Linked DNA regions of Homo sapiens. The protein of the gene in region 2 interacts with the protein of the main gene of each other region in a pairwise test. Each region holds a gene or a part of one and is shown on either strand. Other genes may lie near its edges. The genes, in order: ANKRD1, MYBPC1, CAPN3 and KLHL41.

Region 1 (4,380 bases), on a different chromosome or scaffold from region 2:
ATGCAAGAAAGCTGTCTGATCTGCATGGTAATGCTACATGAACAAGGAAGGTGCAAGATAGAAGAAACGGAGATGTCAGCATTTAGATAGTTTTGAGCCTTTAAGTTCACACTCCTCAACGTAGGCCTTTGAGCCCTTGGAAATGTATATTGGAGGAAGCTCAAATATTAGTTGCAGGATAATTGTTCTGATTCTGCAATTTTAGTTAACTTTGACATTTCTATTCATAAAGAAGCACTTGAGTTTCTATCAGTTAGGTCATCAGAATCTCCAGCTTCATAGCTCTTAAAAGGGTTTACACACATTTTTATATTTATTGCTATCTCTGTTTAAAATCTCTGTTCTGATAGTATAAACGGACAGCTCTTCATAGAGCATGCTTGGAAGGACATTTGGCAATTGTGGAGAAGTTAATGGAAGCTGGAGCCCAGATCGAATTCCGTGATATGGTAAATATATTTCTTTGCTTGGGAATGAGCCAAAAGAAGTAGACTATATGAAGCTCCGGAAAACCTCCAATGCAAAACCGAGCTGATTGGATTGAAAATTGATCTGAGAGAACTAGGCAAAAGCTCATTTCTCCAAATAAAGGAAAGTTGGGAGATGAGAGTAGGTCATGTGAAAATATTTTCCATACATACTGAAAATAGAGGAATATTTCAGGGAAAAGAAGGAAGTGAAAGCTGTTAAACTGAATTCAATATCCTCATCAGCGAGTTAGTCATTCATTTTCGACACTTGCCTTTCAACAGCCTTGTCCCTCCATTGTTCACAGGGCAGCCTGCTTATGGTTGGCTGCCAGCAACATATACGAATTCTCTAGCTGCACACTTTATATGATAGATGCCAATTGCTACCAATGAGATTTGGGGCTAGACTGCATATGAAATGAATTGCATCTATGGAAAGTAGCTGCTATTCAGACCTCAATAATTCAATCACTGTGATTTCTACGAAGACCAGTATGCAGCATAATTTATGAACTGAAGATTGAGCTGGGAAAATTCTTTATGTATTTAAATGCAGCTCATTTTGACTTTATAGCAAAGCGGCAACGGGATATCAAAGAAATCCAAGGGACTTGGCCAAAATTGAATCCAAAACATAAACACATTGAAAAAAAAATCAAGAAACAAAATATGAAGTTTGCATGGAAACTAAAAATCATGAGTGTGGGATTAAGGCCAGGGGCATACCAACCACATAGATCAGTGAGGAGAGGGTCTCCTAGGGGTAACTATACACGTTACAACTGTAGACACAAGTGACTACAGTTGAGGTACAGAGGCTGTGCTAGCAAAAATGAGCAGAAAACCCACAGAAGTAGAGAAAGAGCGACAGGGACCCTAGATGAGGTGTCAGATCCAGATTAAAATATTTTGGAAGGGACTACTTTTATTCTGCCAAAATTTTTAAATACATGTGTTTAGAACTTTTGTGTACATTTGACAAAAGAAGTTAGAAGTTCCAGGCAGAGGGGAGTTTGACTGTGTATTCTGCCTCTTATTAGTTGTGTTTCCTTGGGCTAGAAACTTGAACTTTTTGGAACCTGGTTTTTCTTATCTGCAAAATGTGCATAGCAACACCTACCTCAAAATGTTGCTGGAAGAATCAAGGTGTCTAAAGTGTAGCACCATGTTGGCATGAGAAATGTCTCAATAAGTGGCCATTCTTATTCTTTTAAAACATTATTAGATTTATTAAGAGCCTCCTAATAAGACACACATATGCACACACACACACACACACATGTAATTTAGCTAACACATTTGGTAAGAACCTTCGACTCCAGTTAGAATTGTCAATCTAGATGGGGACAACTCATTATTTTCACGGATGCCCTAGCAACCAGGTTCTAATTCCCCAGACCACATTCTCCTTCACATTGTCGGGTCTTCCCTCCCGGTATAGCTTGAATCCACAGCCATCCACTGGGCAAGCCGTGGAGGAAACCTGGATGTTTTAAAATTGTTGCTGAATAAAGGAGCAAAAATTAGCGCCCGAGATAAGGTATTCCTTCTTCTCCTTCTCCCTTCATTCACCCCCTCCCCCTCCCTGTCCCCCATCCTTCTCCACTTCTCCCACTCTTCCCCCTCCCCCTCCTCCTTCTCCCCCACCCGCCCTTCCCTCCTCCCCCACCCCTCCATCTCCTAACCTCGCCTCTCCATTAAAGTCATCTGGAGGCCCATGCTGTGTGCAGGCACCCTAGTGACCACTTCTCCCCCTCGCACATGTCTTGGGGTCTGGGACAGCCTCTGTCCTCATTCCTAGCGAATCAGCAGCGTTTTCCAATTTTCCAGTTGCTCAGCACAGCGCTGCATGTGGCGGTGAGGACTGGCCACTATGAGTGCGCGGAGCATCTTATCGCCTGTGAGGCAGACCTCAACGCCAAAGACAGAGTGAGTAGCTGGACACGCTCGGGTTTCCCAAAGCTTCATTGCTTTTGTATTTGGAATCACTCCCCCAAGCCTGGGTGCCCTTGCAGGACCCACTTCCTGGCCTCAGACCCACCTTGAACCTGTTGACTCTGCTTCTCTAGGAAGGAGATACCCCGTTGCATGATGCGGTGAGACTGAACCGCTATAAGATGATCCGACTCCTGATTATGTATGGCGCGGATCTCAACATCAAGAACTGTGTAAGTACTGGAAACAAGAAACACCGCTTGCAAGCTTTCCAATTTCCAGGAGCATTTCTTAAATAGGTGAAACGACTCCCACAATGGCAGTATTTGAGGGGTCTTCGATGGTCTAAATGCCCCTGCCCATTTCCCCAAGGACAGTGTTTATCTTGGCTAGGACCCAGTTCACATGGCCAGAGATGAGGGAAGTCATAGATACTGCTATGACCTCAGTGCCTGATACAGTGCATAGTAATTCTTTTACAATTTGGTCTTGGAAATGAAAGATAGTCAAAATTTGCTCATCCCCACAAACACCTAGAAGTCCAATCTGCTTTGGCCATTTCTGTCTGTGCAAGGGCTGAGGAAGTTAGAAATAAAGGCATCCACCATTTCCAAAATGTCCTAAAATTCCACAAGGGTCAGTGCAGCCAGTGAACTAAGGTTAATCAATATCCAATCTGAGTAATTCAGAAAGTCCCTTTCCTCCTTACAGCAATGTGAAATGTCACCATTTTCTTCCAGGGGTAGCTGTGCTTTTGCCTGTATTTTTTTTCAGATAATTTCTATCCATTCTCCACTTGGATTTGTCTTCACATCTCTCAAAATAATTTCCTATATTTAGGCCCTGAAAATTCTTGTATAAGTACATATTAATTTAACTTCATCTGTAAGCAGGGAACATAACCAACTTTTCCTCATGGTCTCAATTTCCAGACAAACACCATCTAATATAAGCTTAAAAAATATTGCCCAGAGGAACAGGTATAAATTTCTGAAGAAATAATTTTAAAGAAGCTTTTGAAGAATCACTTTACAAAAAAGAGTGGGGGGGGGGGGAGGGAAACTCAGTCATCATATAAATGCAAATAATTTTCTCCCCTTATTTGTGTTGCAAAGACTGAGAGGAATATCTTATCTTTTAAAACAAATCTGGCTTGGTGACAGGATCAAAGAATGGTGATAAATGAAGATTGCTTGGGATGGGAAAGTGTTAACAGTAGGGCTTCCTCAGTCTAGATATTGGAATTGATCCTATCTAATATTTTTTTAAACTATCAGAAAAAGAGCAGGTTAAATGAAATCTTGAAAGCTGCAGAAAATGTGAAGATTTTTTTTCAGGCAGTGAGACACTACCAGCAGAGACAAATAGCATACAGGTTTAGGGAGACTGTGTAAGTAGCCAGAAAAATCACAATATAAATTTCAATGGAGAGAAGTGCAAGGAATTTATGGAAGAGTAGCCCAAAATATACAAATACGGCTTAGGGTTCTGAATTATCAGTTAGATATTAGCATCAGGTTTATGGAACTATTAATGTCATTGACCCAATGGATTGATGTTTCCCCCAAAGATCAATAACCTATTGATGCCATCTTAAGGAGATTGGGAGCAGCATACAATATTTTCTCATTATCCAAAACTGTATATTCATGTCTACTGATGATTGTTCCTAGAGAAAGACACTACAGAGGTGGGGAAGTTCCAAAATGAAGGTTATAGGGCCACTAATTTAAATACCTACAGATCTCATAATCTGACTGCAGACTGACCTCACTGTGCCGGGCAGATGGCCTAAGTGACTTCAATGTGTGGCTGTCAGGGTCTGTGCACATAACTCTTTTAAAGGTGGCCCTTCCCCAACCCAGTCTATGTTGCTCTGTGGAACCATGGGTACCATGTTTTTAACTCTTCTGATTTTTTCATAGAAGTCACAAATCCAGCTCTTGGTTTCCAACTGTTGCCAATTCATACTAAT
Region 2 (4,634 bases):
TACACTAGTTATGCACATAAACAAATGATCTTTAGTTTATTCAATAATTGTTAAGGGTGCAAAGGGATCTGAGACCAAAAGGTTTGAACCACTGGTTTTGAATTTATTGCAAATCTCTTTGGAAAAAGATTTTGTGCATGTTATTTTTAAAACAAACTCAGGTCATATATATCATATACATCTGCAGCTTTGATAAAATGAATGAATCAGTCAAAATAAAAACCTTACATTGATTTTGAAGCAATAACTCATTTTCCTAAGTGCACCATAATAGAGACAAAAGGGCAATAGTGTCTAGTAACACCTACCCTATGCAGAATTCAGCTATCTAGCAACTTACCTAACAGCTTCTGACCACCCAAATAAAAGGGCCTCTGAAGGGCCTCTGCATTTATCTCAAGCTCCTACGTTCCAGGCACTAAGAGTTTCTGTGTTTTCCTCATGGAAGAAGGCCCTAGCTCCTCAGTAAACCCAGGGCCTGGGACTTGGGAAAGGTAAGCAGGGTGCCTGAGGAGCAAAATTTAAGGAGGTCACTTAAGGGGCTGAACCTGCATTTTGGTGACCCAGAAAGTCAGTGCCTTCTTAAATGTTGTGCCTTAGGTGGTGCTAAACTCTACTCAGCCAGATTAATTACCTGGAATGGCGTCTATAATAAAGGACAAAGGGGAGTGAGGGGAACAGTTTCATATGCTGACTGACAAGAGTACTAAAGAAGACAGCACACTTCTAGGAGGGATAAAGTAGGAAAGCTAAGAAAAATTGGAAAGAAATTCAAAATACAAATCAATATGAGTCCATTTTTCAAAAGAGCAAATAATTTGGGCCCTCAGGGTGTCACATGCTACTAATAACTGATATCTATAATTTAAGACAAATTATATCCACTGTACTTTATTTTTTAAAGCAAGGAGTAATATATTACATTTTAAGAATGTTTCTATTCAAACTGGTGGAAAAAATAAGGCTCTGAGGTTATATAACAAAATTAACCTTTAGCTGTGCAGAGAATCCAGCTATTCAGAATGATTCAATCAATTTAATCCATATTTATTTACTATGGTCGAATGTTGCCAAAGACTGTACTGTACTCTAATGTTCTGAATAGATGAAGTCTAATTGTACCTTGATCATGTAAATATTCAATGACTCATTATTCAACCTTTGGAATTTCCCTGAATCTACAGGGTTTTTTTTCCTCCCCTAGTCAATTCATTCTTTTGTCCTTCTAATTATGCAAGTTTCATCTCAGGATGTCATTTCACACAGGAAGAGGATTAAAATATGGTCCTTATTACATAGCAACAAATAGCTTCTCATTGTTAACATGGGGCTGGGGGAAAATTGCTAAGATCTGAGGACTTGCCTTCCTCACTACTCTTACCATGTTTTAAAGAATCAAATGGGGTGTGTTTTGCAGGGGAAGATTTACTCAGATTGAAGGAGCTTAAAATTTTAGCATAGGTCAAAAAGAAATTATTGCAAAAGCAATTTGAATTGTTAACAGTTTCCTCCTTTACTGTGTCTTTTTTGGGGATCTTGAATCAGTTATTATTGTTATTATTATTTTGAGACAGAGTCTCACTCTGCCACCCAGGCAGGAGTGCAGTGGCATGATCATGGCTCATTGCAGCCTCCTGGGCTCAAGTGAATCTCCTGCTTCAGCCTCCCAAGTAGCTGGGACTACAGGTGTACACCACCACATCCAGATAATTTTTGTATTTTTTCATGCTGTTTCACCATGTTGCTTGGGCTGGTCTCAAACCCCTGGGCTTAAGCAATTCTCTGGCCTTGGCCTCCCAAAATGCTGGGATTACAGGCATGAGCCATTGTACCTGATCTTGTATCACTTATTTATGTGGCTATAGGGTTATAGGATAAATTTCTTAAAGGCCTTGCTCCAAACTGTTGCTGGACCTCACATTGGGTGACTTTTTAAAAATAGAGGAAGAAGAGTCCTGACGCCAGGTGGGGTCATAAAAATAAAATTCCACCGCAATAAACACAGTGACACTCAATCAATCACCCACCACATCCATATGTGGTCATGGAGAGTTCTTTATGTGGTCATCTCAGGAAAGCGCAGACTGAGGAAGACCCTATCCACCAAAAAGCACCCCTGATAAGAGAGAGAAATCTTCTTTTTTTTTTTTTTGAGACGGAGTTTCACTCTTGTTGCCCAGGTTGGAGTGCAATGGCGCGATCTTGGCTCACCACAACCTCCGTTCTCCCAGGTTCAAGTGATTCTCCTGCCTCAGCCTCCTGAGTAGCTGGGATTACAGGCATGCGCCACCATGCCCTGCTAATTTTGTATTTTTAGTAGAGATGGGGTTTTTCCATGTTGGTCAGGCTGGTCTCAAACTCCCGACCTCAGGTGATCCTCCCACCTCAGCCTCCCAAAGTGCTGGGATTATAGGCATGAGCCACCACGCCTGGCCAGGGAGAGAAATTGTAAAGTCCCACAAACCCAAGACTTATAACCCTTGGAGACAGACATAGATATTGTTCAACTCTGTAGGGTAACTCTTTCATCTAAGTGGGAAAGGCCATGTCCCCACAAGAACAGTGAAGAAACAACCCAACCGTTATCACCTTATGCTGACAACTACAGACCCCCGAATTGGACATGGCTCATTTCAGTAAGAACACAACAGAGGTCATGGAGTATAGACCTTTTATTTGATCTGAGCTTCTATGGGTGAAAGCGAAGATGTATCACCACAAGTAAAAGAAGGAAATATAGTGGTGGGAATGATGGTTATGACTATCATAGCAGCTTTCTTGGCGTGTATTATAAATATTACACTAGTGAGGAGGTGAGCAGTGGTTGTTACATCCCTTATGTTGAGGGAAATGCCATCAGTTTATGTGAAATATGAGGCATTTAATACCTTGTGCCAGACAAGATTTCTGAGTTTACTGCTTTAGGAGGAAAATGCTTGAAATCTTTCCATATGTTAGGCCCTGTTCTAAGCACTTTACCTGTCCGGGCATGGTGGCTCATGCCTGTAATCCCAGCACTTTGGGAGGCCGAGGCAGGTGGATCACTTGAGGTCAGGAGTTTGAGACCAGCCTGGCCAATATGTTGAAACCCTATCTCTACCAAAAAAATACAAAAATTAGCTGGGCGTGGTGGCGCATGCCTGTAACCCCAGCTACTCAGGAGGCTGAGGTAGGAGAATTGCTTGAACCAGGGAGGTGAAGGTTGCAGTGAGCCGAGATCATGCCACTGCACTCTGACCTGGGCGACAGAGCAAGACTCCATCTCAAATAAAAAATAAAATAAGATAAAATAAGCACTTTACCTGGTGTATTTCAGTTAATTCTTACTGAGACCCAAAGAGTTGATACTGTTTTATTCACATACAGATGAGGAAACAGAGGCATACAAAGTGTAAGTAATTCAGTCTATGGTGCAGCTGGAATTTGAGCTGTCTAGAATGTTCTACAAATAGTATAATTTTTTTTATGTCACCATGTTTAATAATGCATAATATTTAAGATGCATAAAGAAAAAGCCAAGACACATACTGTGTGCATAACAACCCTAAAGACATCTAACTCTAAACATGACAAAATGTAGAATTAAAAAGGACACATTTTGAGTTTTAAGTAGAGCATTCTGTTCCAAGATTCATTAAAATTTTTAGAAGGCAAACGATATCACCAGATGCAAGCAAAGCAATTTATAAAGAGTATTTAGGAAAGATTTGGACAATTTTAGAGAAGAAGAATACTTACCAAAATAGCTAAATACACATCAAAAAAAAAGAATAGAACAAAATCATAAGATCTAACATTTGACATATTATTAAATGTAATTTTAGACGCTGCCCTGATGTGCCAAATTGGCCTAAAAAGGATTCCTAAGGGAGTATAAAAGGGCAAGTCTTATCAAAGTGGATTTAGACTTGAAAGGCATAATGAAAGTCAGATTACAGTTAGCTTTTTGTGAACTCATTATAGAAAGAGAAATAAGTGTGAGATTGAATGATTCTGGTCTCCGCCTCTGCCAAATCAATCAATTCATGCCCCAATCTGATGGGACCTAAAAGTTTACTCTGAAAATGTACGTTAAAGCCCATAAATACTCTGTCCCATGAATGGGAACATCTTGAAATTTGGCCTGTGGTCCATCTTTGGGCTGTCTAAAACAAACATACTCTTTGTAAATTAAAACTGAGCCTATCCACACAGAGCAGAATTACGACAAGACAGTATGATCACTTTGACTTTGGGGGGGCTGTCTTTGTAAAAAGCTGCAAGGACAGAAGCCCTCTTCTTATCCAGTTATGAGATAATTTGCATACATGTAGAAAATTAAGTGACAAAGTCTTTTCTTCTTTTTCACAGTTTGGCTTTCCTTAACTGGTATGCTCTCAAATTTTAGGAAACCCCTCATGAATAAACAGTAGCTACTTCATGATTAACCTAACTCAGAACACTAATTCAGCTACTACCTTTCTGTGTATTTATTCAGTTTCCCCAGGATGCAGTACTTTGAACAAACCATGGATTCCAGAAAAGACATCTGTTTCCATCAAGAACTAACATGGAATAATAACAAAGAAGATGTGGCCACATGCTCTCAGGTACACACATGAAATTAAAATTTCCATACTTATGTTTGATTGCTA
Region 3 (5,309 bases), on a different chromosome or scaffold from region 2:
AGGGCTGGCAAAGGTCACTACATCTGAAGAAGTTTATGGAGAACTGATGTCTCCAAGAAGTGCTTTACAGTCAGAAAGTTCTGGAGTCATTTCAGTTTTTCAGTTCCAAGTCAACTTGTGTGGCTGTAGATAAGTCATTTGCCCTTTCTGGGCCTTAATCACCTATAAAGCAAGGACACTGGAGCACCTCTCCAAGAATCATTCCAACTCTGACCATCTCTAATTTTATATTTCTCATTTATGCTAGTGAACCCAATGGGCAGTGTTCCTGTGATCTTAACCCCAGGGGAACATGTGGGCATTTTATCCAAGAGTGGCCTTTGTTATCTGGTCCTTTAGTGACTCAAACAGTGGAAAATCCAGGATCTTTGTTGTTGGTGATGGTGGTGGTGGGGGCACAATTTAGAACAGACAAGTCTTCTGCACCCCTCATTTCAAACATGGACACTGCCCAATCTAGTACCTAGAGCATAACAGGCCCTTAAAGAATTTTTATTAATTTGTAAGTCTCGCTTGAAGACTCAAGTCCACCAATGATTTCACTGAAAACAGTATTTGTAGGTTTTAATTTTCCCCATTCTGAGAAAGAGCTTTTATTTTTTTAAACTTTTTTTATAGAGATAGGGTCTCACTATGTTGCCCAGGCTGGTCTCCAACTCCTGAGCTCAATTGATGCTCCCACCTCTGCCTCCCAAAGTGCTAGGATTACAGGCATGAGCCTCCATGTCTGGCCCAAGAAAGGGCTTTTAGGAACTCCCTGCCTGGGAACGCAGGCCTATCCTGTCTCACTGGTCAAGGCCCTTGGGCGTGGGTTTTCACTCACCAGCATCAGCTGAGTACCCACTATGGGACTGGCCTGAGCTTGGTGAGGGGGCCTCAAAGATGAACAGGAAGGATTTCTGCTCTCAGTGAGAGGAAATCAGTCATGAGAAAGATTGAAGGAAGTGACACCTGAGCAGAGGTTCAGATAGGAACAAAAAAGGCATGTCAGGCAGACAGACAGCATGAGCAAAGGCCTCCGGTGTGAGAAGACTTGGAACTACAGAGCAGCTAAATGTCCAAGCACTGCTGGTGTGTCAGGATCTGGGGAAAGAGGATGGACATGGGCCTGGACAGGTAGGCAGGGACCAGCTGAGAAGGGCCTATGGCTTGGCTAAGGAGTTTGGACTTGTCCTGAAGGCAGTGGGGGCCGAGAGAGGGATGTCACTGAAGATATTTCAGCAGGGGGTTGTGACATGTCCAACTACTCTGATAGCAGAGTAGTGTTATCTTCTAAACTGAAGGCCTTCAGGACAGTTATGGGCCTTACCATAGAACCAAGAAGAGCCCCTATGGAATATACAGGGTTGTCTAGTACTCCACCTCAGGTTTGTTGTTGTTATTGTTGTTGTTTGAGACTGGGTCTCACTCCTGTCACCCAGCCTGGAGTGCAGTGGCATGATCTCGGCTCACTGCTGCCTCAACTCCCCGAGTTCAAGTGATCTTCCCACCTCAGCCTCTGAGTAGCTAGGACCACAGGCATGTGCCACCATGCCTGGATAATTTTTTGAATTTTTAGTACAAAAGAGATAGGTTTTCACCCTGTTGCCCAGGCTGGTCTCTAACTCTTGGGCTCAAGCAATCCTCCAGCCTGGGCCTTCCAAAATGCTGGGTTTATAGGCATGAGCCACCATGCCTGGCCCACCTTAGGTTAAAGAAAACCATGGCTAATCAATAGTATTGGGTCTCAGCTTGTCATCATTTCCTCAGAGAGGGTTTGTCTCCCTGGACCAGGTTAGCTCTCCTTGCCACATGATCCTGTGGCACCCAGAACATCGTCTCCTGACAATGTCACTCTTGTTCAATGCCCATCTTCCCTTCAGGACCCTAGGTTCCAAGACAGCTGGAATTTTGGTCTTTCTTACTCACTGCTGTCCCCCCAGTTGCTTGCCCAGTGCTGGCACTAGTAGATGCTCAATAAATATTTCTCGAATTAAGAACAAGAGTCACACTGGAGGGATGATCAGAGAGGTGAGCCAGGGGAATGTGATTTCCCTCCTGGCGATCACTGTAAATGAAACCCAGAGGCTGGGAGAGTTTCCTAAAACAGAAAGTTTTAATCCGGGCTCTGTCATGTGCCCACTAGATATATTTCACTCTAGTGTGCCTTGACTCCTCACTTATGAGGTGAGGTAGGTGGACAAAAGCGATTGCTAGGTCTCTCTCTCTTTAACCCCAACATTTTATGCATGAAAAAATATTCCTTGCCTATGACTCTTCTCTTTCTAGGGTTTCTGTGTTTCAGAAAGATATGGCCATTGGTAAATTAAAGAAGAATAACATCATGATTTTAGCCAGAGAAACTGAAATAATCTTACAAAGATGAATAATATTTAAAACGAACAGGTACATCTGGGCTGTCTGGAATTTGTTCTGAGAAAGGAATATTTATTTTTACAGGATGAATTAAACTGAGTTCCACCCACTTTTATAAAAAGCAAGATTTTTTTTTTTTTTTCAGAGAGAAAGAGCCAGAGCATAAGAATCAGCCCCACCTCCTGCGCTCTCCCTCTGGATTTTGCTGAGATTTGGTGAAATATCTGAGACCTGTTCCTCTCCTCCCTGCTTCACACTTAAAGACAGAGCCCAGCAGAGCTGCTGCCAGGATCCTTCCCCCAGTGCCCATGTGCACAGCTGAGCTGCCGGAGGTGCTGAGTGAGAGGACTCCTCCGTGGGGGGAAAACCCAGCCAGCAAGCAGGAAGCTACTCACCGGAGGTCTCTTCCAGACGAACTGGATGGGGAACTTCTGGCTATAAAAGAGAGAGGTCTCATCCGGTGGGAACTCAGGGTCCACATAAAGAACTTTCTTTTCTAGACATTTCTTGTGAAGTTGCTCGAATGTCTTCTCTTTCACTCCGATAATAGGAAAATTGCGGCTGATGATGGCTGAATAGATGCCACTTGGGTTTCCACCCCCAGCCTCAGTGGCCTTGCTCTGGGCCGGGTGAGGAACTGGCCCTGGGGACCGGGGCTCAGCCGCTGTCCTTGGAGCCACAGATGCGCTAATGACGGTCGGCATGGCAAGTGGCTTTGGAAGAAAAAGCTTTTTAAAGAAAATAAGATACAGCTACCTTCAAGGAAAGGAAGCAACTGCAAAGGGGAAGTTGGAGTAATTCTGTCATCTGAGAGAAAAGTGTCCACATCCAGTTCAAAGTTGAAAGCCCATCAGAAGGTCGTACAGGTTATGTCCATCTTAAAAACCGAGCTGTGATTCTGAAGCCATAAGTTCTCCTGAGAAATGAGTGCTAAAGGATTTCTGAAGCAATGTTGACTTGGGGGTCTCCTACCAGCAGCATGCATGCCAGAGGGAGAGAGAAAGAGAGTGAGGGTTGTGTTTCAGTGGCCTGAAGATGCTTGAGCCAGGAAAACTAAAAATAGATGTGAAGAAACACTGTGAGTATGAGAGCAAGAGAGACTGCATGGTAGAGAGAGAACCTGGCTAGGGACATTTCTGTTGCCATGAAGTGCTGGTGTTGCCAGAAAATGAAAAGGGAGTATCTGAGTAAGGTGAACACTGGAAAGAAGCTGAGAACTGCTGACATGTTATTGAGTAGGCAGTTATACAGACCACCCAACTACTGGCCATCAAATGAATGGAAAACAATATTGCAAAAAAGCTAGTTAGGGTGAACGGGAGGTACTGAATTCTACAAAAATATTCTGTGAATTTTAGAGAACATGATTTTTAGTCCTAAAATTTTAGGATATCAGAACATTATTCAATGTTAGATTTGGTATCTTTTTTAGAATGTTCTTGGGTCAGCGCTCATTGGAAATGTCTGCATGGAAAATGCTACTCAGCAGAGTCCTCATTTGAGAAAATCCCTGTCTCTACCTGCACACTTGACCTTGCCACCTCTTGTCTCTCCCCATCCACAAAATGAACACTGGGACTGAATCTGCTAAAAAGTGGTCCTGCTGGGCCATGTGGCTCACGTCTCTAATCTCTGCACTTTGGGAGGCCGAGGCGGGTGGATCACATGAGGTCAGGAGTTCGAGACCAGCATGGCCAACAATAGTGAAACCCTGTCTCTACTAAAAATACAAAAATAAGCCGGGTGTGGCGGCGGGTGCCTGTAATCCCAGCTACTTGGGAGGCTGAGACAGAAGAATTGCTTGAACCCAGGAGGCAGAGGTTGTAGTGAACCCAGATCACGCCACTGCACTCCAGCCCAGGTGACAGAAAGAGACTCCGTCTTAAAAAAAAAAAAAAGTGCACCTGAGCAGAGAAAATCCTCACTTAACATCATCGATAGGTTCTCGTAAGCTGTGACTTTAAGCAAAATGATGTACTGTATAGTGAAACCAGGCTAACTGATATAAACAAGAGTTAAGTCCCTACAGCACACGGTATGTTTTCGTTAAAGTCACAGTTTACAAGCACCTATCAATGATGTTAAGTGAGGACTTACTGTACAGGTTATATGTTGACTCATTCAGCCATGCCACATTAGGCATCTGAGACAGAAGTTGGAATTAGATACTGAACCAGACTGTCTGTCAACTCCTGGGATGTCACACCTGGTTTCAGGGCTCTTAGATGAGAGCATAAGTGGCTCTGGGGAAGGGAAGTGCCTGCCTGGCCTCCACCTTGTCTTCTACCCACAATAGCTGCTCCCTGGGCTGTAAGGAGATGAGCACATTTCAAGTATGGCAGAGTGGAGGCATGTCCTAGGCTGCAGTCATGCCTGTTCCCATGCGACCAGTCTCAATAATCCAAGATTAGAGGCTATGGAAGAAGGTGGGAAGTGACAGGTAAAATAGGGAGTACTATCAGCCTCCTGATCCCTGGGATTGCGGCTTTGAAGGACTCTATGTCTGGGCTTGCAGGAACCATCAGCCTAGCCATCTGTCCCTCCAAGAAAATGCCCAGGGCTTTTTACTAGTCTTGGAGAGGCAGAATAGAGGACAGTGGTCTCTGGTGACTGACCACCTCGGTTCAAAGTCTAGGTTGGCCCCTTATTGGCTGTGCCTGTGTAACTTTAGGTGAGTTATTTCTTCCTTTCTGTCTCAGATTTCTCACCTATAAAATAGGTACAATTACAGTCATTCTGTTATTAGGTTTTGGTAACAATTAAATAATTTATGTAATACATTTTACACAGTGCCAGGATTTTCTTAAGCACTCAATAAATGGTGTTGTTAGAGAAGACCTGAATTTAATATTACTTTGGAGTTAGATCAGGTCGAATGCTACATTTACTCGCTGACGCAAATCAGCATCCACTCAATGGGCATTAACTGAATATCTGCTATGTGGACAGCACAG
Region 4 (4,634 bases), on a different chromosome or scaffold from region 2:
TTGTTTTTGTTTTTGGTACAGACAGGGTCTCACTATGTTGTCCATACTGGTCTCTAACTCCTGGCCTCAAATGATCCTCTCACGGTGGCCTCCCAAAGTGCTAGGATTATAGGTGTGAGCCAGCACACCTGGCCCTGAATAATTGTCTGTGTAGATGGATATACATGTCTCTGTGGAATCATTTGATTTTAAATGTAGTTTCTTTATGAAAAGATCTTCACTTAACTTGTTAATGATTGATATCTGTAAAGTATGAATGCTTCCCAAGTTTTCATTCCTTTACGCTGTTTATAATTTTATTAAAAATTTCATTTTTAAGCTTTTATTGACTTAATGTGAAAAGATATTTGACAGCTATTCTTCATATAAAATTGGTCTTTTTAAAATTTTTGAGCTCACACATCTGGATGAGTATGTACCTTTTATATTCCTAGTTTAGCAATGAAGAAAAAAGAGAAATATTATTACTTTTTTTAGAAACATGTATGCCTGACTACAAAACAGACTTTAGTATCTGAAAATTACAAGGAACTTTTGTGGAACACTATTTAAATTATCATTAAAAATAATGTTTTCGAAGACTGTAATGTGGGTAAACACTCATGATGTAAGTTAAGAAGCAACACACAAAAATTGTAAATATCTTCTTAGTTTCATTTATATGTATGGAAGCTTAAATGTACATGCTTTTTAAAAAGATGACAAAATTACACCAAATTGTTGCTTGTGATTATGTCTGTAAGGTATGATTATGGAGATATCTGCTCTCTTGTATACCTTTCTGTACTTTCCAGATTTTCTCAAACTTTTTTTTTTTTTTTTTGAGACAGGGTCTCACTGTGTCACACAGGCTGGAGTACAGATTTTCTATAATGTACATATATTATTTTTATAATTAGAAAAAAATCGGCTAATTTTTTGTATTTTTAGTAGAGATGGGGTTTCACCATGTTGGTCAGGCTGGTCTCGAACTCCTTACCTCAGGTGATCCACCCACCTAGGCCTGCCAAAGTGCTAGGATTACAGGCATGAGCCACCGTGCCCGGCCTTAGGGTTGCCATATTGAAGGCTTTATATTTAATGAAGTTACATCTTTCAAATATTTTCTAGTAGCAAACTTAGTCATTTACTTTTAGATGCCTGTGCTCCTTGAATTTTTTTTTCCCCCCTTAAAGACAGGGTTTTGCTCTATCACCCAGGCTGGAATGCAGCAATGCGATCATAGCTCACCGCAGCCTTGACCTCAAGGGCTCAAGAGATCCTCCCAAGTAGCTGGGACTATAGGGACATACCACCAGGCCTAGCTCTGTGTGTGTGTGTGTGTGTGTGTGTGTGTGTGTGTGTGTGTGTGTGTGTGTGTGTGTAGACAGTCCATTTTGTTGCCCAGGCTGGTCTCATACTCCTTGGGCTCAAGCTATCCTCCTGCCTCAGTGTGTGTGTGTGTGTGTGTGTGTGTGTGTGTGTGTATGTGTGTGTGTGTGTGTGGAGGCAGTCCATTTTGTTGCCCAGGCTGGTCGCATACTCCTTGGGCTCAAGCAATCCTCCTGCCTCAGTCTCCCAAAGTGCTGGGATTACGGGCATGAGCCACCGAACCCAGCCGCTACTTGAATATTTATTTTTTATTTAGATGGAGTCTCGCTCTGTTGCCCAGGCTGGAGTACAGTTGCACAATCTCAGCTCACTGCAACCTCCGCCTCCCAGGTTCAAGTGATTCTCCTGCCACAGCCTCCCAAATAGCTGAAATTACAAGTGCGCGCCACCGTGCCTGGCTAATTTTTTGTATTTTTGGTAGAGGTGGGGTTTCACCATGTTGGTCAGGCTGGTCTCAAACTCCTGACCTCAGGTGATCTACCCGTCTCAGCCTCCCAAAGTGCTGGGATTACCGGCATGAGCCACCGCGCCTGGCTGCCTGGCCACTACTTGAATTTTTAAATTATTATTTCCTATAATTATTCAGTAAGTACATCTGGCATTTCTTTAAGTTTTACATTGACTATATTTTTAATGATACCTAGATGGGATGTAATGACCGAATTTCCCCAAGAAAGAAGCTCCATCAGTTTGGTCAGCCTGGCTGGATCTCTGTATGCAATTGGTGGTTTTGCTATGATTCAACTGGAGTCTAAAGAATTTGCACCCACTGAAGTCAATGACATATGGAAGTAAGTTCTCATCACTTCAATTTTCAGAATCACATATTAAATCAGATGACTGATAAACTATTTTGTAGTAAACAATAAGCCAGATTTTCCCAACATGCAAGCTACTTCTTGGTAGTAGACTAAACACTTCAAACCTAATTGAACTTCTGTACATGCCACTTACTTGAACAAGTATCTACTTCTAGTTAGCTCTGAGCCTGAGAAAGAAATCATCTGGGCAGGCCTGTTTCTTACTGTAAAATGAGAGTTGGACCTTTGATACTCTCAGTTTCATTCCAGCTCTAAGAGTATAATGCTATAGGCATCCAGTAGAGTGAAAGCCTCTTTGCTCCAGAGTAGTTTATTTCCTAACAAAACAGAGTTCTAAAAAAAATTTTATGTTTTTTACTTTTTTATTTTTATTTTTTTGAGACAGAGTTTCTGTCACCCAGGCTGGAGTACAATGGCGGGATCTCAGCTCACTGCAACCTCGGCCTCCCAGGTTCAAGTGATTCTCCTGCCTCAGCCTCCCGAGTAGCTGGGATTACAGGCATATCCACCACGCCCAGCTAATTTTTATATTTTTAGTAGAGACGGCATTTCGCCATGTTGGCCAGGCTGGTCTCGAACTCCTGACCTCAGGTGATCCACCCGCCTCAATCTCCCAAAGTGCTAGGATTACAGGCGTGAGCCACGTACCCAGCCTAAAGAAACATTTAACCTCTTGAGCTTTCCACTACTTCATTAGTTCTGTTTTCAATCTAATTTAAACAGCTTTCCAATTGTTTTAGGCTTCAGCTAATAAATGCTTTTTTAAAATGAAAAAAGTCAAAATAGCAATCCATTTTACCTGCCTGGAGGTGCCAGGCAGTTCTCCTAAGTATGACACTTGAAACTGTTACTCAATTGAACATTTTAGTGAGGCTATTAAAAAAAAAGTTTGTTTTTATTTTATTTTGAACTGAGATCGCGCCACTGCACTCCAGCCTCAGCTACAGAGCGAGTCTTAAAAGAAAAAAAAAAAAAGAAAAAAGAAACACAGAATCCCAGACCCTACTGAATGAGAATCTGTATTTTTTAACAAGATTCTTAGGTGAATTGTTTGCACATTTAAGTTTATAAGTACAGCTTTGGAAGAGTGCCATTTATACTTAATCAGTGAAGGCATACCACTAAGCCTGAGAGTGAAAAGTGGGTATTATTTGTTCTATACCTTAACCAGCAGATGCTTTATTCCCAGATGCTGAACTAAAAAGGCTGAAAAGCTGGTACCTTAACCAAACAATGATTTGTGCATTAGACATCATTTCCCCATGTTGTAATATTAACTAGCTGTGTAGAGGGCAAGAAAAAAAGTGGCTATGCAAGGAAATTAACTACTTTCCCTCCTCCCCCCAAAAAAGAGGGAGAAAGAGAAAAAAAATGAGATTTCCACGGAGCAAAGAGGCTAGAATTAGCAAAACAGTGAGATGGGGAAAAGCTGGAAGCAGTAGGAAAAAAGGATGAACTAATGAAGGCCGGGAAGGTTAGGGTTTTTTGGAAAACAGGGCCAGGTACCAAATATATAAATGGGCAGTGATTCTCAACCCTAGCTGTATGTTACAATCATCTGGGATGCTTTTAAAATATACCAGTGTCTGGGCCTTAACACAGACCAATTATATCAAAATTTCTGGAGGTAGAGTTGAGCATCCCTAGTTCCTAAAACCTTCCCAGTGATTTTTTTTTTTTTTTTTTTTTTTTTTTTTTTTGGTGAGACAGAGTCTCACTCTGTCACCCAGGCTGTAGTGCAGTGATGTGATCTTGGCTCATTGCAACCTCCAGCTCCTGGGTTCAAGCGATTCTCCTGCCTCAGGCTCTGGAGCAGCTGGGACTACAGGTGTGCACCACCATGCCCGGCTAATTTTTGTATTTTTAGTAGAGATGGGGTTTCACCATATTGGCCAGGCTGGTCTTGAACTCCTGACCTCAGGTGATCCACCCACCTCAGCCTCCCACAGTGCTGGGATTACAGGCGTCAGCCACCGAGCCCAGCCCCAGATGATTCTAATCAGCAGCCAGGGTTGAGAAACACTGATATTAAGTAATTGTGCTGTCAATCAGTGGGACCTCCCTGAAGCCCTCCTGGTTCCTAAGGGTTATCAAAAGCCATGCTGCCCCTGCAGGGAACAGTTACAGGCAGCAAAAGAAAGTACAGAATCTCCTGCTATAAAAGTGGCCCTGACATTGTTTAGGGAACCTAAAAGAGGGATCCTCTCTGATTGTGGTTTATTTTGCGATTAGAGCAGTGGTTCCCAAAGTTGCCTGCACGTTCGAATCACCAGGGTGCTTCAAAAAATATTAACACCTCTATCCCACTTATATTGACTGCAATTTAATTGGTCTGAAGTATGGCCTGGGCTTTGGAAATTTTAAAAGATCCATGGATGTTTCTATATGTGTAGACAAGTTTGGGAACCACTGGATTGGGTAAAGAGAAGAGGGGGGCATTCA

Evidence for each region.
Region 1: the proteins of MYBPC1 (region 2) and ANKRD1 interact in a two-hybrid assay, tested with the Homo sapiens proteins (one large-scale study listed by BioGRID and IntAct).
Region 3: the proteins of MYBPC1 (region 2) and CAPN3 interact in a two-hybrid assay, tested with the Homo sapiens proteins (one large-scale study listed by BioGRID and IntAct).
Region 4: the proteins of MYBPC1 (region 2) and KLHL41 interact in a two-hybrid assay, tested with the Homo sapiens proteins (one large-scale study listed by BioGRID and IntAct).

Annotation. Positions count from the first base shown.
Region 1 is NC_000010.11:90,913,801-90,918,180, reverse strand, and holds part of ANKRD1 (ankyrin repeat domain-containing protein 1), read left to right. Parts: intron 1-350; coding exon 351-449; intron 450-1,911; coding exon 1,912-2,010; intron 2,011-2,300; coding exon 2,301-2,399; intron 2,400-2,539; coding exon 2,540-2,638; intron 2,639-4,380. UniProt on the Homo sapiens protein: May play an important role in endothelial cell activation. May act as a nuclear transcription factor that negatively regulates the expression of cardiac genes. Induction seems to be correlated with apoptotic cell death in hepatoma cells.
Region 2 is NC_000012.12:101,600,864-101,605,497, reverse strand, and holds part of MYBPC1 (myosin-binding protein C, slow-type), read right to left. Parts: intron 4,590-4,634; exon of another isoform or gene 4,478-4,589; intron 1-4,477. UniProt on the Homo sapiens protein: Thick filament-associated protein located in the crossbridge region of vertebrate striated muscle a bands. Slow skeletal protein that binds to both myosin and actin.
Region 3 is NC_000015.10:42,357,556-42,362,864, reverse strand, and holds the start of CAPN3 (calpain-3), read right to left. Parts: upstream 3,365-5,309; 5' UTR 3,060-3,364; coding exon 2,751-3,059; intron 1-2,750. UniProt on the Homo sapiens protein: Calcium-regulated non-lysosomal thiol-protease. Proteolytically cleaves CTBP1 at 'His-409'. Mediates, with UTP25, the proteasome-independent degradation of p53/TP53.
Region 4 is NC_000002.12:169,518,846-169,523,479, forward strand, and holds part of KLHL41 (kelch-like protein 41), read left to right. Parts: intron 1-2,015; coding exon 2,016-2,162; intron 2,163-4,634. UniProt on the Homo sapiens protein: Involved in skeletal muscle development and differentiation. Regulates proliferation and differentiation of myoblasts and plays a role in myofibril assembly by promoting lateral fusion of adjacent thin fibrils into mature, wide myofibrils.